Linked DNA regions of Homo sapiens. The protein of the gene in region 2 interacts with the protein of the main gene of each other region in a pairwise test. Each region holds a gene or a part of one and is shown on either strand. Other genes may lie near its edges. The genes, in order: RUBCN, FAM9B, CCDC116, DNAJC15, PHYH, CWF19L2 and UBE2E2.

The links.
Region 1: the proteins of FAM9B (region 2) and RUBCN interact in binary tests that used the Homo sapiens proteins (3 or more experiments, as listed by UniProt).
Region 3: the proteins of FAM9B (region 2) and CCDC116 interact in binary tests that used the Homo sapiens proteins (3 or more experiments, as listed by UniProt).
Region 4: the proteins of FAM9B (region 2) and DNAJC15 interact in binary tests that used the Homo sapiens proteins (3 or more experiments, as listed by UniProt).
Region 5: the proteins of FAM9B (region 2) and PHYH interact in binary tests that used the Homo sapiens proteins (3 or more experiments, as listed by UniProt).
Region 6: the proteins of FAM9B (region 2) and CWF19L2 interact in binary tests that used the Homo sapiens proteins (3 or more experiments, as listed by UniProt).
Region 7: the proteins of FAM9B (region 2) and UBE2E2 interact in binary tests that used the Homo sapiens proteins (3 or more experiments, as listed by UniProt).

The regions. Positions count from the first base shown.
Region 1 is NC_000003.12:197,702,405-197,705,904, forward strand, and holds part of RUBCN (run domain Beclin-1-interacting and cysteine-rich domain-containing protein), read right to left. Parts: intron 2,772-3,500; coding exon 2,688-2,771; intron 2,298-2,687; coding exon 2,138-2,297; intron 1,251-2,137; coding exon 1,144-1,250; intron 1-1,143.
Region 2 is NC_000023.11:9,027,628-9,031,127, forward strand, and holds part of FAM9B (protein FAM9B), read right to left. Parts: intron 2,970-3,500; coding exon of another isoform or gene 2,941-2,969; exon of another isoform or gene 2,734-2,940; coding exon 2,634-2,733; intron 1,792-2,633; coding exon 1,680-1,791; intron 340-1,679; coding exon 241-339; intron 1-240. UniProt on the Homo sapiens protein: May play a role in meiosis.
Region 3 is NC_000022.11:21,631,498-21,635,559, reverse strand, and holds the start of CCDC116 (coiled-coil domain-containing protein 116), read right to left. Parts: upstream 2,801-4,062; 5' UTR 2,733-2,800; intron 2,581-2,732; exon of another isoform or gene 2,577-2,580; coding exon of another isoform or gene 2,379-2,576; coding exon 2,307-2,378; intron 1,539-2,306; coding exon 990-1,538; intron 876-989; coding exon 294-875; coding exon of another isoform or gene 1-293.
Region 4 is NC_000013.11:43,110,586-43,114,713, forward strand, and holds the end of DNAJC15 (dnaJ homolog subfamily C member 15), read left to right. Parts: 3' UTR 1-3,628; downstream 3,629-4,128. UniProt on the Homo sapiens protein: Negative regulator of the mitochondrial respiratory chain. Prevents mitochondrial hyperpolarization state and restricts mitochondrial generation of ATP. Acts as an import component of the TIM23 translocase complex. Stimulates the ATPase activity of HSPA9.
Region 5 is NC_000010.11:13,286,565-13,290,064, forward strand, and holds part of PHYH (phytanoyl-CoA dioxygenase, peroxisomal isoform a precursor), read right to left. Parts: intron 1,978-3,500; coding exon 1,796-1,977; intron 1-1,795. UniProt on the Homo sapiens protein: Catalyzes the 2-hydroxylation of not only racemic phytanoyl-CoA and the isomers of 3-methylhexadecanoyl-CoA, but also a variety of other mono-branched 3-methylacyl-CoA esters (with a chain length of at least seven carbon atoms) and straight-chain acyl-CoA esters (with a chain length longer than four carbon atoms).
Region 6 is NC_000011.10:107,426,826-107,430,325, reverse strand, and holds part of CWF19L2 (CWF19-like protein 2), read left to right. Parts: intron 1-874; coding exon 875-1,527; intron 1,528-3,500.
Region 7 is NC_000003.12:23,209,827-23,213,326, reverse strand, and holds part of UBE2E2 (ubiquitin-conjugating enzyme E2 E2), read right to left. Parts: intron 1-3,500.

The DNA.
Region 1 (3,500 bases), on a different chromosome or scaffold from region 2:
GTAATCCCAGCACTTTGGGAGGCCAAGGCGGGCAAATCACTTGAGGTCAGGAGATCGAGACCAGCCTGGCCAACATGGTGAAACCCCGTCTCTACTAAAAATACAAAAATTAGCTGGGCGTGGTGGCGTGCACCTGTAATCCCAGCTACTCGGGAGGCTGAGACAGGAGAATCACTTGAACCCGGGAGGCGGAGGCTGCAGTGAGCCAAGATCATGCCACTGCATTCCAGCCCAGCCTGGACAACAAAGTAAAGACTCTGTCTCAAAATAATAATAATGATAATAATTAATTAAAAGAATCTGGAGAGATAGGGGATCTGCTTCTCTAAGAAGTGGGGACTCTGATTCCATTCTAGCTAAGGCACTGACTGGAGTATTAGTGATGGGATAAGTTAATTTTAGGCAACAAATTTTCTTTGTACTATAAAATTTTCTTTACATCAAAGAAAAAAACATGAAAAAACTGACCCCGTGTAACATTAAGCTATGCCAGGTCTGACACTAAACTCTATCCGATTCAAAACCATCCCTCTTTTCCCCAGATCTTTGTCAAGGCTTGGTATCCTTTGTCAAAAGATACCACAGGTTTAACAAAATCTACCTCCCCACTCCCCAGCTTAGGTCTACTAAGCACACGACCTAAGCCTAGACTTTCTACTTCAATAGGTACTTAACAGTACCTCCCCTCCTCCAAGCATTTTAAATGAAAGCTGGCCGGGCGCGGTGGCTCAGGCCTCTAATCCCAGCACTTTGGGAGGCCGAGGCGGGAGGATCACGAGGTCAGGAGATCGAGACCGTCCTGGCCAACATGGTGAAACTCTGTCTCTGCTAAAAATACAAAAAAATAGCTGGGTGTGGTGGCGGGCGCCTGTAATCCCAGCTACTCGGGAGGCTGAGGCACAAGAATCGCCTGAACCCAGGAGATAGAGGTTGCAGTGAGCTGAGATTGCACCACTGCACTCCAGCCTGGGAAACAGAGCGAGACTCTGTCTCAAAAAAAAAAAAAAAAAAAAAAAAAAAAAAAAAAATGCAAGCCTTTCAGCTCACAAAAATGGCTAAGTGAAAAAGTTTGCTGTAGAGGGCTACATCCTGCTGAGCTCCAGGGACCCAGCATAGACGTGGATAATTCCTTGTCCCCTGTACCATGGACGCATCGATCTGAGCCAGGAGGCGGGGGTTGTTCTGTTCCACTGCTTCCAGGCACTGCAGCATGGCCGTGACATGAGCGTCACTTAGCAGGAAGGCAGCATCTGGGGAGAGAAAAGCTGCCACAGTGATAGAGCCCATCAGGGAGGCCTTGAGAGAAGCTTGAGGAAGCAGAAAGGGAGAGGTAAGGATGAATGAGGAGGAGGGTGAAGGCAGATCAGAAACAAAGTAGAGGAGAAGCTGAAGAACGCGAGGTGCAGCAAAATGGCCAGGGCAAGAGGCTTCAACGTCAGAAAAATCCAGATTTGAATCCTGGCTCTGAGTGACTTTGGCCAAGTCGCCTAACCTCCTGGAGCCCTGTGGATTGGAAACAGTAGCACCAATGCCCAACTCTCGGGGCTGCTGTGAAGATACTGGACAGCAGTGACGGGCACACAGGAAACTCGTGGTAAATGGTGGCTATTCTTACGGTTTGTGTGTGTGGCCGTAGGGGACGACCTTAACATAAAGCTGGATTGTGTCTTACTTGGGAGGTGAGAGGTAAGTCTGGATATATGTTTCTGAGTAGAATCCCTATGGCATCAAGTGAAAAACAGGAGGCCCTGCCGGGCACGGTAGTCACGCCTGTAATCCCAGCACTTTGGGAGGCCAAAGCGGGCAGATCACCTGAGGTTGGGAGTTCGAGACCTGCCTGACCAACATGGAGAAACCCCATTTCTACTAAAATTACAAAATTAGCTGGGCATGGTGGCACATGCCTGTAATCCCAGCTACTCAGGAGGCTGAGCCGGGAGAATTGCTTGAACCCAGGAGGCGGAGGTTGCAGTGAGCCGAGATCACGCCATTGCACTCCAGCCTGGGTGACAAGAGCGTAAGTCCATCTCAAAGAAAAAAAGAAAAATAGGAGGCCCTGGTACCAGAGGGGTAGAGGATAGTGAGGTGGGTGACAACGAGGAAGCACAGATGACAGTCCTAAGTGGCCTCTACCTACCTGTGTAGAATTTTCTGATATACTGTCTATCCCCGAGCAGGGGCCGGAGCTGGGCTGAGAGGCAGTGGTACTGCAGGCTGTGCTGCAGCCACAGCTCGGCAACAGCACGTTCACTGGCACCATCAGCACTGCTCTGGTCGTTCTCGTGCACGCTGATGAACTGGGAAGCAAAGGGGCATGAGTCAAAACACACATCCTGGTAGATACGGCAAGATTGAGGCCTAATGACCTGAGAACTAAATTGAGACAGGTAAGGGAAATGCTTTGAAAGGCTTCACCCTGGGTCCCATGTAGGCAGGCTTTTTTGAAAATAGCAAAACTTTTTTTCCCTTCCCCAGAGGAGAAAAAGTGGCCTGGACCAATGGGTTTGCATGTTTTTTTTTTTTAAGCAAATAAAGTCAGTCCCTACAGGGATAATTAATTTCCTTTCCTCAGCTGATAGGCAACTGGACATATTCCCTCCTTGGAGCCTAGAAGATTCTTCTGACAGAGCCTCAAACAGTGAAGACCCACAGCTCTGCCAGCACAGCCGCTCTGCTCTCACTCTTACCTTCTCCACGTGAAGGGCTGAGTGGGGACTGAGCCACCGGATGTCTTTCACGAACTGCCAGTAATCCGTCTGGCGGCGGCACGCCTGCAAAGGGAACACATACAATGAGCAAATCACGACCATTCTGGACCAGATCTAGTTCTAGGGTTGGCATTCAAAGATAGGAAAAGGACCACAACCTTCCCTTGCCTCATCAAAGGTTCTTAGCAGCAATCAAAGGATACACACAGAGGCCAGGGGTGGTGGCTCACACCTGTAAACCCAGCACTTCAGGAGGACTGCTTGAGTCCAGGTAGACTGGCCCATCTCTACAAACAATTTAAAGCTTACCCCGAGTGGTGGGACATGCCTTAGTCCCAGCTACTCAGGAGGCTGAGGTGGGAGAATCACTTGAACCTGGGAGGTCAAAGCTGCAGTGAGCCATGATTGTGCCACTGCACTCCTGCCCAGGCAACAGAGTGAGACCCTAACTCAGAAAAAAAAAAAAAAAAAAGAAAAGGAATTAAAAAAAAAAAAGGAATACTACACTTGACATATGTTTACCCTTTTAAAGAATAATTGTTAAAGATTATTTTAACCATTCTTTTGAACAGGTAACATATGCATATGACATACAAGGTATACAGTAAAAATAATGTTTTCTTTTTCTTTTTGTTTGAGACAGAGTCACTCTGTCACCCAGGCTGGAGTGCAGTGGCGTGATCCAGCTCACTGCAACCTCCACCTCCCATGCTGAGGCGATTCTCATGCCTCAGCCTCCCGAACAGCTAGAACTACAGGCACATGACATCACGCCTGGCTAATTTTTGTATT
Region 2 (3,500 bases):
CTAGGTAAAATTTCCAATTTACCTTTTCCTGTTCTAAATAACTCCCACAAACTATTCATGAATCCTAAAAATACATTTACCAATTATATTATATCTGGAACAATACATTCAAAGTGAAAATGCTAAGTAATTTGAAATGTATAATCAAATGTCTTTCCATACATTCAGAAACAAGCAGACTGTCTTCTATTATGCACGTGTTGTATTTTATAATGTATTATGTTACCAAATAGAACAGACCTTTACGAATTGGTCACGTAGCAGCTTCATCTCTTTCAGCCTCTCTCTCCTAACACTTCTATATTGTTGCCACTTCTTCTGTTGTTCTTGAAATATTCTCTAGAATCCCAAAACAAAATAGTGATAAAAATTGGGTAAATTTTAATACTTACAAAACATAATTCTGCATTAGCTTTAAAGGAATACTGTTTAAATCAATACCTCTGAACACTTTCTTTTAGACAACATTTAGGACCAATTTTAAACAATTGTGTTCACCAATAACATGCTAAAATGATGTATTAACCTTTTTTATCAGTCATTAAGTAAAGAATTTTCTTACTTTTACACATTCAACACATATGTCCTAATTCTTGATTTCCAATGAAGAGTATTTGATGAACCTTCCTATAATTTGTTGACCACAGATAGGTAAGATCTATACAGAAATTAACTAAGAAAAATTCTTTCTAAGATTTTAAGCATGTATTAAATCTCGGTCATTTCAATATGCACATAGATGAACCACCCAATAATGATTGCCTTTCTGCACCCTGACCTAATCTCCAACAACAGTGTTCTCCTCTCCTCTACGTGGCACTCACTCACACAGTCATCCCCTAGATTTTGTCATTCCCAATGACTTCAACACCTACGTAATATTAATAATAGCAATGATAAAGAGCAACCATGGGTCAGATCACATCCTGAAAAACTTAAATAAACCTGTTACACAGAAACCCTTTGATCCTCCAAACAACTCTGACGTAGGTACTCTTACCATGTCTCCTTTCGTAGATAAGATAATTTGCCCATGGTTTCCGAGCTAGCAATGGTCAAGCTGAGATAAATAATTTTTCCATGGTTTCCGAGCTAGCAATGGTCAAGCTAGAATCCCAAGCAGTGTGGATGCATAGTCCCAGCCCTTGACCACTGCACTCAGCTGTTTCTCCAACTTCCCAACATACAGCCACTACCTCCCTGCCATCGTAGGTCACTCACTTCAGTACTACAGCTCAGGAGTCTGTTGGGACCTGACACCCACTGAATGGAGCACTTTTTACTGCCCATTGCCCACTCCCGTGTGCTCAGATAACTCAGTCCCAGCTGAAATTCCACAGCCAGTCATCATATCCCCATCTCTGCATCTATTCCCTGCCCAACTCTCCCTCTATCAATCTGCTCGGCTACACCCCGACCCAGGAAATTCCAACCCTACAGCTGTGCTTGCACAAATATGCCAACTGGGCTTACTTTAACTTCTTCATCGTTATGATGCTGACTTCAGTTGGACCCCTAATGCTGCGTGGCAATTATATTCCCCTAGTCCATTAGTCCACTAACGGGCCCCCCTCTCTGGGCTCATGCGCTCTTCCTTCTTTGCTGGATTTCTGCATGAACTATTACTACCTGAGACACTGACATAACAGGTTATACATAAAGCTAAGCATGATACCAACAATTAGTTCTTCCTCTTCTCCCTCTTCTTCTTCTTCCTCTTTCTGCTCGTCTGTGATGTATTCTTCAAGGACATTTAGCAACTTCAGAGAATGTATATAATCACGTTTCTGCCTGTAACACATAATAAGTAACACGGTCATACGTCATAGAGAGATGAAAAATTAATCCTATTCAAACCCAAACTGACTTGACATAATTTATACTATAAAGTAGCAAGGGAGTAATAGCAGCTGAAATCTTCTTTTTGGAAAAAAGTGAAATGAGTTACTCTCATTTTGAAAGGATTCTTTTCTTCCTGACTACTAGAGCAGCTATCTTACATTCTTTACCTGCTGAAGACAAAGGAGGGTTTACTGCACTATAACTTTCCCAGAAACATTTTCTCTAAGAGCAGTTTACTTTCCATTTCCTCTTACTGAATAACATATGGGTTCTCATAAGTAGGTTCAAGAATATCATAGCCATTCATCCCATAAGATTTCCCAAAAGAAAAACTTCACTTAACTATTTCTCCACTTTGGCACACCAATGATTTTGTAAAAGAAATAGTGAAAACAATTTAACTAAAATAGATAACTTATTTACAACATAAGGTTATCCCTTTCTACATAATTGAGTATCGTTAAGGATCTACAGACTAAACATTGAGAACATTTATCTTATATGCAGCTACCATATTTCTAGAAATGGATAAACATTAATTTTACAAGAAGGCTATTTTTATCTGGAAGGCAAAAAGAGGTCATCTTCATTGGCTTCTAGGTAATATCTCTTAATTCTGTTAAACTGAGGTTATAAAACTAAAGAAACTTACCTACTTAGAGAACAATCAAGTAAAATATGTTGTTCACTAGAGACGCCAATATGTACAGGATAGTTTTTGAAATTATTTGCACCAACTAATACAAAGAAATGATATAAATATCATTATGCAAAAAAGCCAACAGTCATACCTTTTAAGTTGCTTTTTTCTCAAAGCATGTTTACTTTTGTTCTTTGTTTTGCTGCAAGTTTTATCCATTTTCATCCTTTTTCTTTTTGCAGTAAGATCCTCTTTAATGTCAGTTAGATAGTAAATGAAAATGGATTAAAAGTTAATGTTGAAAAGTAGTTTCTTTGCATATACTGACATCAATATGGGACTTTATGGTTCAGCAATTTCAGAAGGATATTTAAAATATAAAATGCAAAGATCATTTCAAAAAGCAAGATTTACTCACTTATTTTCTGTAAAACCTTTCAGGTATTAACATTCGCATTTCAATTCCAGTTGGTATAACTGAAAATCACTTAATTGACAGATGATGAAAAAAAGCAAATAATTAAAAGTCTCTATTTTTTAAATGTGCAGAAAGAGTTATAAGCACAGACTTTAATTTCTACATTTATAAAATGTCCTACAATTCAAAGGAGATGCTTCCATGAAATACTGCACAATTCATTACGTAAAGCACACAAAAAAGTATCTTATATAATAGAACCCTCAAAAGGGTAGAAATAACTTAATGCACAATAAGAAAAGCATTTTTAAGCAATCTAGTGATTGATGCTATTAACTGTATTTTAATAAAAGAAGCAATGGCCATGAGTATAAAAATTTAGGTTTAGGTAAAGAAATACATTCAAAAACACTTTTGAAATGTTTTCTTGGAGCTTTTTATGACATTTGTACCCATAGTGCTGTGTTTCAGAAAACTGTAATACTGCAAGGAATGCTTTCCTAAACATGATTTCACATCAGAGCTCTACCATCAATTGCTAAGAATAATTTTCAGCAATCATAAAAGATTTGTACCACAATGCAAATATTTTTTACATAC
Region 3 (4,062 bases), on a different chromosome or scaffold from region 2:
GCGGGAGATGAAGAGGCAACTGGAGAGAGCTCAGGGAGAAGGTAGCAGGAAGAGCGGGGGTAGGGGGAGGAAAGTGGAGGTGTGACAGGGCCCCTGAGGTGGCCCTGGCTGCAGGCCACCTCCACCACAATCCCTGGCGTGGGCAGGGTGAGGTGCAGGCCCTGCCAGGGCTGGGCCCTCTGGCTGGAGCTCAGGGAAACAGGTGGGTTTTGTAATTTGGGATCTGAGTCAGGTGCCTCCTCCCTGGAGTGGAGTGAGGGGCTGGGGACATTGGGCTTCTCCGTGGGTGTCACCTTGAGTTTGAATCTGGTGGCCACCTGGGCACTAGACATGGAGGGGGAGCCTCCTCTGTCCTTGCGTTTTCTCTGAAGCATCTTGGGGCTGGAGACTGTGGGGCGGGGGGAAGCATAGGGCTGCCCGCCATTGGTGGGTTTAGCTGGCTCAGAGCCCAGAGGCGGCAGATCTGAGGTGGGCTCCAAGCTGGTGGGGAACAGAGGACGGCCGTCGCGGCAGTGGGCGCCACGGAGCTTATCCACAGCCTGGCTGACCACGCTTTGCAGGGCAGGGAAGAGGCGGTGGTCAGCCAGGAAGTTCAGCGTGCGATGGGGCTCACGGAGCGGACAGTAGCCAGGCAGGTCGAGGGACTCCAGCTGGCTCAGTAATGACTTGATCTCCTTATTGAACTCTCGCTTGCGGAAGATTGGCTCCTGTTCTCCAGGCCTCGGCTCTGATGCTTCAGGCACGCCAGAGCTTGAGCCCAGCAGCCCTGAGAACCAGGACAAGGGCTGCTCCTGTGTCCACTGAAAGCTGGTCTGGCTACCCAGCGAATCCCACAGCAGGGAGTCCCTCTGGGAGCAGGACTGACTGAGGCCTTTCTGCAGAAAGAGGGTGACTCTGTGAAGTGTTCAGGAGCAGCCAAGCCAGGGCTGACCCTAGCCCTGGGCTCTCCATGGGAGTCCACCCCACCCAGCCATGGCCCTGGCTCTCACCCCTTCCCTCTCCAGCTGTAGCAGCCGCTTGAGGTTCTTCTCCAGCAGGAGTTTGTCCCTCACAGGTGGCAATGAGCCTTGGGCACCTAGGTCACTGTCCCGGCTGTGGGAGCCCAGACAGCCGGCCATGAGGCTGCTATGGCAGTTGGACATGGAGCTGGAGCTGGATGGGTAGTTGTTGGGGTGTCCAGTGCAGAGGGTCGGCCGTACACGGTGCCGGTGTACGGTGCTGAGGCTGGGCCGGGCATGTGCCCGCCGTCCACCACTTGGCACCTCCACTGGGTCCTGCACCTCCACAAGCGGCACCCCAGCCTCCGTCTTCATGGCAGCCATGCGCTCAGTCGCCTTCTCCACCACTGTCTCCAGGCTGTCCAGGACCTGGCTCTCAGTTAGGAAATCCAGAAAGTGGCCAAAGGGCTGAGGGTGCCTCTTGTTTCGGCGTTGGCCCTGGAGTGCTGAGCTGCCACATGTGGATGGTGGGTGTGGCACACGGCCCGGCTTGCAGGCTGGCCGCATTTCTGGGACCAGTGGCTTCTTGGGCAGCTGCACCTGAGCAGACAGGTATGTCACAGGGGGCAGGGGTGCCCTACAGGTGAAGGGTTCCCTGGGGTAACACTAGGACCTGGGTGGGAGTGAGTAGTGGAAGGAGCTGCATTTTGGAGTCTGGAAGCCCTGGGTTTGGACCCTGGCTCTGCCACCTACAGCCTGATGCCAGTGTGCAAGATGGCCCCTCTTGAGGTCCAATGTCCTCATCTGCAAAGTGGAGGTCTATTCAGGGTCACCCCGAAGCTTTCCTAACACCTACATTTCACACACACAAGTCCTGGCTAAGGAGTCTGCAAGCCTGCTTCTGCCCTGACACGTGGCAGGATGAGCAATCATGAATCTCTCGGAGTCTCCCTCCAGCTCCTCATCTGTCCATGCAGCAGGCCATCCCTGTATCCATGGCAGGGCTGCAAACAACATCTGAGGTCTTGAGTGCAGACAACACCTGAGGTCTTGAGCCCTGTGCTACCCGGGCCTGTTTCTCCAACTTGAGCCATAGGCACCTAGTCAACTCCATGCTCCCACTCTAGGGTCCCAGTCCACCCAAGCACCTTCTGGGTCGCTGGAAGTCAGGAGGAAACAAGGAATGAAATTGAGTGTGACAGGGGCAAGCAGTGGGGGACATAGGAGAAGTCAAGGCAATAAGGACTTCACTAAGAGGCCCAGAGAAGTCAATAGACAATGAGAAATGGGGGTTGTGGTCTTGGGTGCCAGGGTTGGTGGGGAACATGTTGTGGCCTCAAGGGTCGGCGCCCTGCTGGGCACACTTACCCGTGCACTGCACATGGAGTGGCTGGCCTCGTCATCGGCCAGGTAACCCGAGTGGTGGCGGCACCTGGCCATGTGGTCACCTGGCAGGTGACCGGGCCTGCTGCCCACCTCTCTCTTCAGCTGCGCATTCCTCTCTGCGTGGGGTGGGGAGACAACCTGAGGGTCTCCAATAGGTCCACGCATCTGTGGCCCTGGAGTCTGCGGGTCCCTCGCTCCCCGCACCCCGCCTCCTTCATGCATCCAGCCCTTCCTCTGCTCCATGGCCCCCATGCGTCTGCAGGCAGGCAGTTTCCAGAGTCATCGGGGTGGAATCGCTGAGGACAATCCTGTCTCCGATCATCTTTGGATCTGCGTGTGCTCGACCCGCCCTCCTCCCAAACCCTGGGCAACCTGGCTTTCACCCCAGCCCAGAATCAACAGACTCACCAGAAACACCGCCTTGCTCCGCACAGGCCAGTACAGTCTGCGCCCTCACTGGAGCAGCTGCACAGTGCGAGGAAGTCGGCTGGCGGCCTCCACTTGCTTATTTGCATACCACATCCTCATTGGTTCTTACCGAGGAGCTCGTCCACTTCCCTCTCCGACACAATGGTTGGGGGCGGGGCCCACATTGGCCCCACCTCCAATTCTCTGGGCTCTGCCCTCCCACACTCGCCTGGGAGCCGCAGGCTGAGGATGCTGGTGCCCACGCTCCCCGCTGCCGGGAGGACCCCCCACCCACCACCGAAGCTGGGGCTAGGCTCTTTGATCTGCTCCTGCCCCGAGGGGAGCCTAAAAGCCAAAGCCACGTCTTCCACCGGTGGCACAAGCACCTTCCTCGTGTCCTCCTTGGTTGCTGCGCAGCCCTGGGCCTCCTGCTCCTGTTCGTTTCCAGGGGCCTCTGCCCTTCCCGCGGTGTGCACAGCCCCAGGTTCTGCCTTGAGACCTCTCCCCTCTGCAGTGGAAAGAGTGCCGGCTCTAAGTCACAGACCTAGCTTCAGTTCCTGGCTCTGCTCTTTCCTGCCAATGTGACTCAACCTCTCAGCATTAGTCCCACACTGTAAATGGGCTTGAGTGTTCTTCCAATATGGGAGTATGGGATTCAATAAAATCTCCCTACAGCACACCCAGTAACCCAGTGGAGCCTTGTGTATTCTTTAATTAATTAATTTATTTATTTGGAGACGGGAGTCTCGCTCAGTCGCCCAGGCTGGAGTGCAGTGGCGCAATCTCGGCTGACTGCAAGCTCCGCCTCCCGTGTTCACGCCATTCTCCTGCCTCAGCCTCCCGAGCAGCTGGGATTACAGGGGCCCGCCACCACGCCCGGCTAATTTTTTTGTAGTTTTAGTAGAGATGGGGTTTCACCGTGTTAGCTAGGATGGTCTCGATTCCCTGATCTTGTGATCCGCCTGCCTTGGCCTCCCAAAGTGCTGGGATTACAGACCTGAGCCACCGCGCCCAGCGGAGCCTTGTATATTCTTACCTCCTCTCCCTCCCTCCTTTTCCCCTTTGCTCAGTAATACCCCACCATGGTGTCACTTCTTCCAAAAACCTTTTACTGTGAATTCTGCCACGCCCTACGCAATTCACAGTAAACCCCATTCCAGACTCTACCATACCATGTTGCTACTTATTTTTCTATCAGATGGTGCTTCTTTGGGGCCAGAACAGAGGCAAGTCACCCTTAATCTCTAATACTTTCAGTGTCTGGCACCAAGTAGGTGCTCAATAAATGTCAGTCTCCTCCTTCCCACCTGCAGACCCTCGGGACCTCTGA
Region 4 (4,128 bases), on a different chromosome or scaffold from region 2:
GCTGTTACCCTTGTACCTAAAGATGCCATCCTAATCCCCAGATCTCCACAACTATACCTACATAGTAGAAGGTTAAAATGTATCCCTCTTTTTCTGGTGCATCCAGCAAAAGTAATATCATGAATTATGAGCTCTCTGAGAGCAAGGATCATATCAGTCTTGTTTATTGTTGCAGTGAACAAGTACAGTTGCAGATATTCAGGAGTAATTATCTAAATGGCAGTAGGCTTATAAAACTGAATTTTCACCAGCCACACCCTCCCCCCAACTCCTTATCTGTAAAAAGCTTATTTGAGTGGTTACCTGTCTTCAGTAAAGATTGCGCTTGCATATTTGCTGTCATTGCATATTCTGCTTAATTAAGCTCTGTTGATATTGCAGTTTCTGTGCATACTTACATCTTAGATGCAATCTGAGGGCCTAGGAAGGCCTTTTAAAAATAAAACAATTCCGATTGCAGAGAAAGTGTAAGTCAAGGACAGTTAATTCAAGGGGAACATAGAAAGCTATTTAGATTTTAGTTGATGGTGCCAGTCTTCAGCGTAAAGTCAAAAGTGGAGGGAAGTTTAGTAAGGAAAAAATGTTGGGCTTGGAATACATTGTTTAGTCTTCAAAGCACTTTACTTTTTATGAAATATATTTTAGACATTCAGCAAATATTGAATACTTACTATATCAGGCAGTAAAGATATAAATTCATTCTTAAAATGTGCAACATGTTCAAACTGAAAAAAATACATTCTTAAACAGGAAACTTTTTCCTTCATACTTTTTAATTAACAAGACATATAAGAGTTGCATTAATGGGCGTGCTTATGATTGATCACCCAGCAGCATCATTAGAAATAATATATTTTATTCATGTGCAGAAATCTTTTGGTTGTCCTGGGGAACCTTGAACACAGAAAAGAGCTTTTATTGATAAGGTAATTGAACACACTTGACAATTAGCTTAATATGGTTTAATACCATTTGTGGGAGAAGATGAATCAGCCAGGCTCTTTACGTCAAGAATATGAAGTTTCTCTTGAGTCAACCAACTTAAGATGAGCTACGGAGACTGCAGTGAAAAGTTAAATATCCAAGTACACCAGCCAATTTCACACAGTGGAACCATGCTGTCCTCGGGCACCCTGCACCTCGCCCAACAGTCATCAACTAGATGGAGGCTCCTGGCTGCAAGGAGGATTTGATGGGAATGAGTAAATGTGTCAGCATAGTCCGTCCCTTCTAATGGAAAAGCAACCCAAAGAGCAAATCCTATTAATGGCTGGATCAGTATCATCTACTTGTCAAAAACATTCCATGAATTATGAGTCAAAATTTTATTTATGGTGGCATTACACACATTAAGAGATGAGGACTTCTGTTAGCATAATTTATTAGCTGGAAAAGTTGAGAAGGTTCTCTGGACTCATTTTTATAGGTGGAACCTAAGTGATCTGGATAATTGCCCACCAGCAAAATTGCTGGGCATGGTGGACAAAGAAAATGTTCCTTCTAATGATTTTTTATGAGCTGAGTAGCTATTGTTCCCAGCTGAGTGCTCTTTTCCTCTTTTTATTGTTGCTGAGCAAAAGAATTTATAAAAAGCTCTTTCTTTTGTATTAAAAACCCTGCTCAATTGAAATGCAAGTTCATTAAGTAATCTTCATTTCTCTTCCTGCCATAATAACCCTTTCCCTCTCTGTTCGATTCAACAGTATCTAGCAGCACTGCTCCAAATTTTAAGTCTGAACAGACTATATTACATAGATGTAGAGAAATACTCAATCTTCAGCATTAAGAGGGAGCTTAATTTCACACGGGTGGAATATGATCACTCAGGCTAGATGTTGGCCATAAATTTCAAATTAGTATCTCAACTTAGCAGGGGGGATCAACAGTGGCAAACTTCAATTATGACAGGATAAAAATCACATAGAGATATTGGTTCAATATGGACATCTAAACTATAATGCTAAAAGCCAATAATTAGAATAAGTTCATTTTAAGAAAAGCATTAATAATATTAGCTAACGTTTAGTACCTGTGCCAAACATTCTACCTATGTTACCTTGATTTTCATAGCCAGCCTAAGAGGTACTATTATGTATCCCCATTTTACAGGTTAAGAAACAGGCTCAGAGGAGTTTAGGATCTTTTCCAAGATTACATAGCCAGTAAGTGGTGGCACTAGGAACCAAATTCAGACTCTGAATCGCATGCTGTTTATATTATATTGCACTCATTCTAAATATGTGGGAATCAGAATGAAGGGGCTTGTATGACTTTTGGCTCATTTTTTGATGCATGTGACCTGGGATTATAAATGTGAAATTAGGTTTACGAAAGGATCCAGTGTCATTGTGCATCATGGGCAAGGAGTACCTAATCTCTTTAATTCTTCCCTGGAAGCTTACGATGTCCATCCAAGTGCACATAGCAAAAGTTCTGTTGTAAAGTTTAGCAGAGTGACTTTCTTTGACTCAGAGTGATGACGGAGGAAGCTTTGATAAGATTTTATCTGAAATGTTCATGGACAAGAGCTTTCAAGGAGAACATCCAGAGCAAGGTTCTGAAGACAGCTCATGAAGGTGAAGCAGCAGACCTGGCACAAGAAATGAAGAGAGAGCTCAGTGTATTAAAGATGAAAACAAGAAAACCGAATATATTGAAAGGAGCAGAGAGGCAATGAAAACAAGACAACTGAAATGAGGTAACTTGCAGCAATTGAAAGGGAATTTCAGTACTTTTATAGAATTCTTAAAAATTGTTTCCTGCTGTTTATTTTCAATTTTGAACAGGGTTATTTGTCCATGCCATACTTTTTTTGCCAAATTCCAAAATTGTGTATAGTTCTATAGTTGTCTGGTGGAGTCAATGGAACTTTAGTTACCAGTCTAAGAATGTGTCTTTGAGATTGTCCAGTTAATTCTCTATTTCCAGTAGCTGTAATAAATGGTGAAAAGGTTTCTGACTCCTGGAGAAAGTTTCTAACTCCTTATGACTAATATTCATAACAGACTTGTGAGTTCCTTGAACATGGATACACCTATATGCAAGAGTGTATTCCAAAGCTAACTCAGTGATCTTTCCATTTATCTATTCTTGGATTAGTGGTGCCTTTGCTCTTTCCTTCTGTAAATGTGAATAGTTAAGAGTTGACTGCAGAAGTGTTTACACTTTGGCTTCCATGCCTCTGGAATGTTTGTGCTTTGGTGGTGAGATGTGAGACTATATTTGTATAGTCTGCATCTCTCAGGCTGCCCCAGAATGTTGTACAGTGCAGTGCTGAAGAAAGCAGCAGGTACACACAGAAATGCAGCCTTTCCTGGTTAACCCTGCTTGGATCTGAGTTACACTTTGTTTCCTGACTTCTTGGGACTTAGGTAATCAGTTTGCCTTCTACTCTATCTCATTTTGTACTCGCTTACATACTACATTCTTGTTTGGGCTTTCGTTTCTTCTTGTAAGCAGAGATTTTTTAAAATCCAATATGTGAAAATACGGATGCACTACAATTAAATAAATAAAATGCTGTTGTGTTTGTTTTGCTTTAAAATTGTAAAGGATAAACAATAAGATAGTTTTATCTATGTGGTTTTCCCGATGCAGTTAAAATAAAACCTAATCTGCTAAAATTGAATTTACACTCAATTTTTCTGTTGTATAATTCTTGAAGAACACCTCATGTGTTGTACAACTTCATCTACATTGTGAACTCTTTTATTTATTGAAAGTCTATCTTAGTCTTTCACTTTTTCTACACTTCCCTTTACTTCCTCATGAGATGCTCAGCCCAGTTGTCCCTCAGGACACAGTATCGATTGGTTCACTTTTAAAAGCAACTGTTAGAAACCCAAATCATAGACATGTGAATTTTCTCAGAAGCCATTATTGAAACTTGGATTTTTACCTCTCATACCAAAATAAAGAAGGGAAAAAATAGAAATCAGCCCAACAATACTTTTAAATTGATTTTTATATTTATGTTGTAATGCAAATACCAAAGAAAAGTGCCTAGTTCCTTGGTTTATTTACTTATATCTTGCCTCTGTTATCTTCATATCAATTTTTGGCCTTAGCACTTTTGACTGCATAAAGAACTCTAAACATAGGCAATGGTAATAGAAATGCTGACACATC
Region 5 (3,500 bases), on a different chromosome or scaffold from region 2:
GTGGCTTGTGCCTGTAGTCCCAGCTACTCGGGAGGCTGAGGCAGGAAAATTGCTGGAACAAGGGAGTCGGAGGTTGCAGTGAGCCAAGATCGTGCCACTGCACTCCAGCCTGGTGACAGAGTGAGACTCTGTCTCAAAAAAAAAAAAAAAAACAACAAAAAACTACTATCATACACAACAGCATCAATGAACCTCAAAATCACTACACTGAGTGAAGGAAGCCAGAACGGGACAAAAAAATCTATACTATGTGATTACATGTCTATGACATTTTAGAAAATGCAAACTAACCTGCAGTAACAGAAAGCAGCTCAGTGGTTGCCTAGAGCAGGGAGAAGGATGGAGTATCTTGATTGTGGTGATGATTTCACAGGTATGTGTGTGTGGAAAATGATCAAATTATACATGCAAAATATGTACAATTTACATGACAATTATACCTCAATGAAACTGTTTATTTGTTTAATTGTTTGTTTTTTAATTAAAAGCTCTTCAGCCAGGTGTGGTGGCTCACGCCTGTAATCCTAGCACTTTGGGAGGCAGAGGTGGGCGGATCACGAGTTAAAGAGATCAGGACCATCCTGGCCAACATAGTGAAATCCCGTCTCTACTAAAAATACAAAAATTAGCTGGGTGTGGTGGTGCGCGCCTATAATCCCAGCTACTCGGGAGTCTGAGGCAGGAGAATCACCTGAACCCAGGAGGCAGAGGTTGCAGTGAGCCGAGAACGTGCCATTACACTCTAGCCTGGTGACAGAGTGAGACTCCTCAAAAACAAAACAAAACAAAACACAACAAAAAAACAAAAAGGGTCTTCGATCTTCCTAAAAGTTTGAACTAAAAAGTTCCCATTCTTCCCCCAAATAAACTGCAGACTTGTTAGTAAAACAGTCTTTTCTAATCTGGTCCTAATGTACATTTTTGGGCTCACCTCCTCTGCTGCTCCCCAAAATACACCCCCAGCGCCCAGCCCATCTAGACTGCAAGCTCCCTGGGTCTTTCCTGTTCTTTGGTCAAGTTCAGGCTTGCCCTTGACCTTGTGCCTTCCTATATCGACTCTTCCCTATGGGACATTGTACACTGTCCTGCAAGGCTCAGGTCAGACACCAGCCTCCCCAGATCCTTTGCTGGTCTCTGCAGTTGCAAGGAGACAATCTCTCCTTCCTTACTCTGAGAGCCATCAGTTAGTGAGTAAGACTGACTTGGTGTCTACCACACACATCTGGGGTCGAAGGGTTTATGTCTTACCTCTGCAGCTAGGACTTACAATCTCGGATCCTATACAGTACCTACCCAAGCTCCCCACCTTGGCTGGCTTTCAAACACGTGTTAAGGGCAGGTACAGTGGCTCATGCCTTTAATCCCAGCACTTAGGGAGGCCGAGGTGAACAGATCACCTGAGGTCAGGAGTTCAAGACCAGCCTGGCCAACATGGCAAAACCCTGTCTTTACTAAAACCACAAAAATTAGCCGGGCGTGGTGGTGCACACCCGTAGTCCCAGCTACTAGGGCGACTGAGGCGGGAGGATGGCTTGAACCTGGGAGTTGGAGGTTGCAGTGAGTTGAGCAAGACCCTGTCTCAAAAACAAACAAACAAAAAAAGTGTTGAAAATAGGTGTGATGAATGTTTTCTCTGACATCCTTGAACTTTCTCTGATCCTCACTGCAAATCTTAGGACAATGTTTTGCTCAGAAAGGAAATGCCATCTCATTTGTAAACTCTTTAGAGGTACTGATGTGAAACAGAAACTGCGAAGGAGATTCGGATCAAGACTCAGCCGCCGGGCAGACCTACCTCCCACTTGGGGTAATCGTGGGGCTTCAGGGAGCCCTTGTGTGTGCCTGGGAGCACAACCAGACAGCCGTTGTTCCGGCTGATGTGCTCCATCGCCGTCCAGGCGCAAACGATGAGATCGCTGGGCCTGAAGGGGAAATAGTGCAGGTCCTGGTGCAGGGGGTGACGGGACGTCTTCTTGCCTGAAAAGAAAACCTGCTACTAAAGGATACTCGAGGCCGAGTGCAGTGGCTCACGCCTGTAACCCCAGCACTTTGGGATATAAAAATATATCCCAAAGTGGGAGGCTGAGGCAGATGGATGGCTTGAGCCTGGGAGTTCAAAACCATCCCGGGAAACACAGTGAGACTCCGTTTCTACAGAAAACAAAACAACAAAACAAAACAAAACAACAAAAACAACTAGCCGGGTGTGGTGGCATGCACCTGTAGTCACAGCTACTTGGGAGGCTGAGGTGGGAGGATCACCTGAGCCTGGAGGTCGAGGCTGCAGTGAGCTATGATTGCACTGCTGCATTACAGCCTGGGTGACAGAGAGCGAGTCCCTGTCCCCCACCCCCAACCAAAAAAAAAAAAAAAAAAAAAAAAAAGCTGGTCTCAGAATTCTTATCCTTTGCCTGAAAAAACAATGACCTGTCCCCAGAAGAACCAAACAAATGAAATAATGCTAGAGAAAATCAGCCCCGGAGAGATAAACACCAAATTGGAAATCAACACACTGGCTCCACATCTTCAAATCCCGCACTCCCTTCTTCCGGGTTGCTGGTAGCTAAGTACTTATGCACACTATTTTCCAGCAAGCGGTATAACATCCTCATCTCTGTTGTGCTTTATTCTTTGTTGTTATTGTTTTTTGAGACGGAGTCTTGTTCTGCTGCCCAGGCTGGAGTGCAGTGACGCGATCTCGGCTCACTGCAAGCTCCGCCTCCCAGGTTCACGCCATTCTCCTGCCTCAGCCTCCCGAGTAGCTGGGACTACAGGCGCCCGCCACCACGCCCGGCTAATTTTTTGTATTTTTAGTAGAGACGGGGTTTCACTGTGTTAGCCAGGATGGTCTTGATCTCCTGACCTCGTGATCCGCCCGCCTCGGCCTCCCAAAGTGCTGGGATTCCAGGCGTGAGCCACCACGCCCGGCCTTGTGCTTTATTCTTTTGTGACCCTGGATTGGGCACAGTACCTAGCATGCAGTAATGCATGTTCAAAAACCAGTTGCATTAATTACATTGAAGAGAGTGATATGGAGTCAAGTTTGAAATCCCCTTTGAAGTGGCTGATGTCAAAAAAAGTTCTAAGCCACGTGTAGTGGCTCACACCTGTAATCCCAGCACCTTGGGAGGCTGAGGCAGGCAGCTCTCTTGAGGTCAGGAATTTGAGACCAGCCTGGCCAACATGATGAAACCTCGTCTCTACAAAAATACAAAAATTAACTGGGCATGGTGGTGCACACCAGTACTCCCAGCTACTTGGAAGGCTGAGGGCTGAGGCAGGAGAATCGCTTGAACCCAGGAGGCAGCAGGTTGCAGTGAGTCAAGATCGCACCACTGCACTCCAGCCTAGGCGACAGAGTGAGACTCTGTCTCAAAAAAAAAAAAAAAAGAAAAGAAAAAGAAAAAAAAACACACAAAACAGGACGGGCACGGTGGCTCACGCCGGTAATCCCAGCACTTTGGGAGGCTGAGCCGGGTAGATTGCCTGAGGTCAGGAGT
Region 6 (3,500 bases), on a different chromosome or scaffold from region 2:
TAAGTCTGTCTTTCCTTTGTGGATAATTTGTTATTTATCTACCCCTATCCATATACAGGCTCACACTTATTCACTCCTTCCCTGATCTAGTCCTTGTAAAGGTTTTTTTTTTTTTCCTTGAGTTTTGAGATTCAGGTATTAGGGTTTTTTTCTGTGTTTTTCTTCTTTCTCCCCCACCCAAGGCTATTGGATGAGTCCTTCTGAGAAATCGGCTGGGGAAATTTTCTTATATATTTTTAAAATTAATGCTCTATTCCCATCATCTTTGCTCCATCTTTCTGGAAGTACTAATAAATGCATATTAGATTTTCTAGAATCAATTGTTCATGTATCTTTTTTTCTTATAACTTACATTTATTTACTACCTTTTCCTAAAATATAGAGAATTCCCAGGTTAATTTAGTTTTCAGCACTGTCTTTTCTTCCTTTTGGTGTATCTTGGCAGCTTTTTGGGACACACAATTTTTTATTTCCAAGTCTTTCTTGTTCTTGAACTATTCTGTTTTTTTTTTTTTTTTTGGTGAGAATCTGTTTTAGCAATTTAACCTCTTGAATCTCACAACCAGTAGGAATTAAGTATTTTTTGCAAAGTTTGTCTCTACTGTTTTCTGTGTTATACTTTGTGTTAGTGCAGAGTGTTTGGTGTAACTGGCTATCCTTTTGGAATCTTTTTGTTATTTAATAATTTTTAATTGTTTACACATTTTTAGAAAGTATTCGTTTCCGTATAGGATGATTGTATGGGTCTTCTTTCACCCCGTTAGTGGGCTTTTCAGTGTGCCACTTGGCAGTGAGTCATACAGTGACATGTGGGGTGCAAGTCACTGAGCCGTTCCTAATTTTAGATATCTTGTTTAATTTTTCTCCTTTGTAGTCAATGGAAATATTTCAGTCAAAATTAGAAGATGCTGAAAAAGCTGCATCCACGAAAGAAGATTATAGACGGGAACGGTGGAGGAAACCCACATATTCAGATAAAGCACAAAATTGTCAAGAAAGTAGAGAATCAGACTTAGTAAAATATGGTAACAGTTCAAGGGATAGATATGCTACAACAGATACTGCAAAAAATAGCAATAATGAAAAATTTATTGGTGATGAAAAAGATAAGAGACCTGGGTCTTTAGAAACGTGTAGAAGAGAATCTAACCCAAGGCAAAATCAAGAGTTTTCTTTTGGCAATTTGAGAGCTAAATTCTTGAGACCCTCTGATGATGAAGAACTGTCATTTCACAGCAAGGGCAGAAAATTTGAACCACTTAGTTCATCTTCAGCATTGGTAGCTCAGGGCTCTTTGTGTAGTGGTTTTAGAAAACCCACCAAGAACAGTGAAGAAAGATTAACATCATGGAGTCGCTCTGATGGGAGAGGAGACAAGAAACATTCAAATCAAAAGCCATCGGAAACCAGTACTGATGAACACCAACATGTTCCAGAAGACCCAAGAGAAAAATCACAAGATGAAGTCTTGAGAGATGACCCTCCAAAAAAAGAACATCTACGGGATACAAAGTCTACATTTGCTGGGTATTTTATCATTTTTTAACCTAATAAGTTAAGATCCAGAGAGTTCAAAGAACAGAACTGTATTTTTAGAACATCAGTTATTAGCTGTGACTATGATCTCACATTTCTTAAAATTGATAGAAGGGGTAAGATATGCAGATTTAACAGGCAGTATTGTGGTATGGATTGCATTTTATTTCATAGGTTTTTTTTTTTTTAAGAGCTGAAAGCAGTAGCTATATTTGTTCAAAATATGTTGCTGCTTTGCAATTTAAAAAACTGAATGAGTTAATGTTTTAAATGTATGTGCTGCAGGAGATATTTTGGTAGATTTTGTTACCAATGCCATTACTTTCTAAGGAAATTATCTTATTGTTGAGTATAATCATAATCATAAATACTGCATGTCTATAGGAAGTCTAGGAGACAAAAGGAAAACACGCTGCCACGGCCCAAATATAAAGTGACAAATACATGCCAGAGATCTTGCAGAGGGGAGCATGAATTATGGTTGTTATTTTGCACAAAGAAAGAAATAATCCACTTTGGGCAATTGACAGATTTTAAAGATAATATTAGAGTTTTAAATATAAAATATATGTTGCATTTATGTAGGGCTGGGTTAGAAGATGAGGAAACCCAGGTTGAATGGGACTAAACCTAAGAAAATTTGCTTTAGAAATTTGCTGGCCCTGTTGGAGATAGCCAGAAAAAAAAGTGTCCAAAGGGTAACAACTTACACGTGAATGATCATTAAAATATGTTTAAAAATAGCACCAAATGAGTGGGACACTAAAGGAAGAGGTTTTAGGAAATAATAGAAACACATGGTTGTAGTAGATAAAAGCACTGTGGTTTGGGGTTGTGAGTCTGATAAATCACTTTTGTTAATGACTCCATCTGAAGCAGTGGATTATAAAACTCAGTGTGTAATTTTCGGTGGGAGGGAGCTGGCAAAATCTGAACTGAGTGATTAAGCCCCAGTCAAATGGACTCTGGTTCACATCAGGGCTTTCCTCCCAGGAAGTGGAAGGAGAAATCCAATTGTATTGACTAAACAAACATGGCAGGGATTATTGTCTAAGGCTGTATGCATATGTAATTGTCCAGTCTTCACTCCAGGTGCCCTGGGTGGTAGACTATTTCCAGTTCCCAGTCACTAGGGGAATGAGGCTCTTATTTCCTGATATCATTAGGATTGGGTTAGCATTTGGATGATCTGTAGGCCTTCTTCTGTGACTGTAGCTAAGCAAAATGTCTGCAAAGTAATACCACACGATTAGTATTCCAACCGGTTGTCTGATTGCTGCATATTTGTATGTCTTATTTAAGTTGTAAGCTTCTGATAGATACACTATAATACAGGCACTCACTAAAAGCTGTGTATGTATATAATTTTTCGGTTTGAAGACAGCACTCACTAAAAGCTATATATGTGTGTATATATATGTATGTATACATGTAATTTTTCCTTTGAAGACAGTATTCTTTGTTCGCTGTGTTAATTTGATGGTACAGAGGGTTTGAGGCTTTCTATGAATTCTGTGACTGGCTGGAGAGGGAAAGAAAAATCTAGGAATCATCCAAAAAAAAAGATTCCTGAGAATGTAGAGTGGTTGTAAAGTAGGAGACCAAGACAGGACCTTGAAGAATGCCTAGTTGTTACAAATAATCTTTGTCTTATAAGTGAATGGTCATGATTGGAAAAATTAGTTGAATTAGTTTTTACTTCTTTGTATGTATTGTTCATATATCTTTACCTTTCTTGTTATTTACACCAGTATTATTTTTTAGAACATGCCATTTGTAATCTTAATAAATGTATATGTATAAAATTTAAACAATATAGACAGAAGAGTATAAAACAAGAATATGAAGCATAGGTGAGTATAAAATGAAAAAGTAAATCTCCCTTTCATGTCACTTCCAACCCTAATCCTATTTGCCAGGTTAACAGTGTTGGTAGTGTCTTTCCAAATTTTTTAGTGTATTTG
Region 7 (3,500 bases), on a different chromosome or scaffold from region 2:
TACGAAACACTCATTTTAACATCAATATATTGGGCTAAGGGTTCAGAAAAATGAAGCAGTGTATATGTACTAACATGTTTAAAACACACACATACATTTCTTGAGTTAAAGAAAATTCAAAAATTTACTGAGAGCCAAGTAGAACATGAATGTGTGGATACGCAGATTCGCAAAGTAATTTCTTAGCAGGAATTTTTTTAAAACCCTTCATCTCATCTAGACAACTTTCTATATTCCCTTACAGACTACATTCCTCAGTCAACCTAAAAACCCCTACTCTAATCAATTGAATCACCTAGCGAAAACCTTCCAAAATGAACTTATTCTCAAAAAAGCATCATGCAACTAATTATTAAAATTTTTTAAATGTCAAAGCAATCTTTAGAAAACACATTGCCATTGCAAATAAGAAGTCTAGAGTTTCATTCTAAATGGTGGTATATACTATATATCTATGATTCTGAAAGATCATTGATTTTAAGACACACCATCAATAATTGTGCACATAAATTTTAAGATGTGTCCCAATTTCAGAAACATTAAAAAGTTTTAAAATGTACTTTTAGAATGAAGAAAATACAGTAATTACAAAAGATTATCTACAAAAGTACTATTTCATTCTCATGTGGAAAACAAACTTAGACGAGCCCATATGATAAAAGTTCAAACTGGAATACAGTGGAATCAATCTTTCAACCTAACAAAAATTTAGTCTGAAACCAAAAACCATACCTCGAACAGTATCATATTGAATGTCCAAAAATAAAATCACCATGTCCACTCTAAACAGTTAATTTAGAATAAATATGATATAAAATTCACATTTACAGATGTATCAACCCGTAAAAGCAGCAGAATAAATTCAAAGAAGATCTCAAAATAGACGTTTTATTGAACTGACTAGTCAATTTAATCAAAATAATCTAAATCTGTCACTGCAGATATAGTCCAACAACAGACTTGCAAATATAACAAGAGTGATATAGACATATCAAGAGAACAGGCTGTGATAAGAGCATGACAATTTTTTAAGAAACTCTTGCCAAAGAAAAGCAAAAATGCATCTAAGATGTAACTGTAATCTTTCCTCCTAACTCTGAGACAGAAATTAATTTCTACTGCTGTTTAAATACCCACTTAAATGTTTTCTGTATTATATACCACTATTCTATAATATCACAAATGAGATTTTTCAAATCATAGTTCTATACCAGCTTATTAATTCTATAATTACTGCATTACAATTATTAATTCTACAATTATAGTACATTTCATATAATAACTGAGCACCTACGTGCAAGCACTTTTCCTAAGTCACTACAAAATGTATTTAATTACGGCATCTGAGTATTTCTAGTTTAACAATAGCATTAAGGCCTCCAAGGTTAACATATACCTCATTTTTCCAAAGTTTGTACCAAACAGACTTGAAAAATATGACCGTAGATTTTAACTGACATAAAGTCTATCAGTGACGGCATCAGTTTTGAGAGCTTACTATGTGCCAAATAAATGCTTTATCACATTTAGTCCTCACAAGAACCTTCTGAACAGCGTACCGTTATCATCTTCCTTCTACGAAAGAAGAAATCGAGGCTTTGAGCTGTTAAATTATACATCAAGATCACAGAGGCTAGGCACAGTGGTTCATGCCTGTAATTCCAACACTTTGAGAGACCAAGGCAGGAGGATCGCTTGCAACCATGAGTTCAAGACCAGCCTGAGCAACATAGTGAGACTCCCATCCCTACAAAAAATACATTAAAAATTTAACCTGGTGTGGTGACACAACCCTGTAATCCCAGCTACTTGGGAGGCTGAGGCTGGAGGACTGAATGAGCCCAGGAGTTGGAGATCATACCACTGCACTCCAGCCTGGGTGACAGAGCAAGACTCTGCCTCAAAAAAAAAAAAAAAAAGACCACAGAGCTATAGCTACTAAATGCTAGAACCTAGATTCAAACGTAGATGCTGTCTCTAGAGTTCAAGCTCTTCAATGCTACTCTTTATCTCATAAAATGACACTATTTGGGAAAGGCTTCTCATCTGAATAAAAATGATCGTCAACAAAAAAGTGTGAAATAAAATTTATTTTGAAACTACCTCTAACTTTTAATCTTCTGAACACACTAGTACTAAGATCCTAATATCCATGGAAAATCCGATCCCTATAAGAAGCTCAGGGTTCCAAGGCAGCCAGTAAATAAATACTGTGACTGTACTCTGCTAGGCACTGTGGACATGGCAGTGAACTTAAAAGATGTGGGGTCCTCTGTGCTCATAATTCCCAATTTTTTTCCTAAGTTCAGCAGAAATGGCAAAGAACCAACAACTTCACTATCAGCTGAATTGGAGGAAGAGAGAGGGGAAAATAAGGTTTTTTAAATTAAAAAATTAGTAGTGAAGCCGCATTTTTATATTTAAAATAAATAGTACATAATTACATCATTTCATACACTGTCACCCGAAAACCAACTGAAGACCTTTCTAGAGGAAGATCATGAACCACAATTTGAAAATCACAGATTCACAACAATTTGCCAATGGAGGGATTCTTTCAGCCAGGAAGCAACTCAAAAGAGACTTCCTATTTTCACCAATGCAATACAACCACTTTCTATTTACTGCCAATCAGGCACTGCGCTGCGCTCTGCACATACATTATCTCTAAACTAGGTTTTATCTCCTACATACAGTGCAGAAAAATATCTTCTATATTTTTCCCTCGTGAAATCTATCATTAGGTTTGAATAATCCGTACTTTCTCTATATACTGTAGTAAAATAAAGATGACCCACGTACTTGAAAAACTCATGTTCACACATAAAGCAGTACATCTTTCATAAGCAGAATTTGGTCTTTGACATATCACCCAAGAAATATGATTTTAAGGTATTTTATAGTGGTGCTCCCAGTTAGAGGAAAAGGCAGAGCCTCACCACAACAGGTGACTTTGCTAACTAGCAATCATAGAATAAAGCACAGGCCCAGCAGAACCCTATTCCCCACAGACCTGGCCAACCAATCCTTCCCCTTTTCTGACAAACTGAAGAGGCCCTGTAAAAACCCAATCAGACACTGAGGACTGAATTAGATCTTCCTCATCTGCGTGGAACTACAATCTGTACCTGAACATCTCCTTCCCACCTACATCGACTTCCTTCTTTCACCTAAATGTCATATTTTCTCTATTCCCCACCTTTCTCATCCATCCTAACCCCACCCCCCATTTTCCAGGTCACCTCTAAGCAGGTCATTTGTGTTGTGGTCTGGCAAACAGAAGGGTCAGCCAGCTGAGTCCCCGGTAATTGTGTTGTGATGGCAAAACAAACTGAACCCTCTTCCCCACCCTAGCATGGTCTAGTATACAGGTCTCAAAGTTTAAAGTTCAGGGCTCTCTGACTTTCAAACAGCTCCTTCAACAGAGATCAGCAATACACCCCCACGAAAGGGAAACTGAATACTCTAGTACCTTGGAATAACCACTCACCATCCCTCCA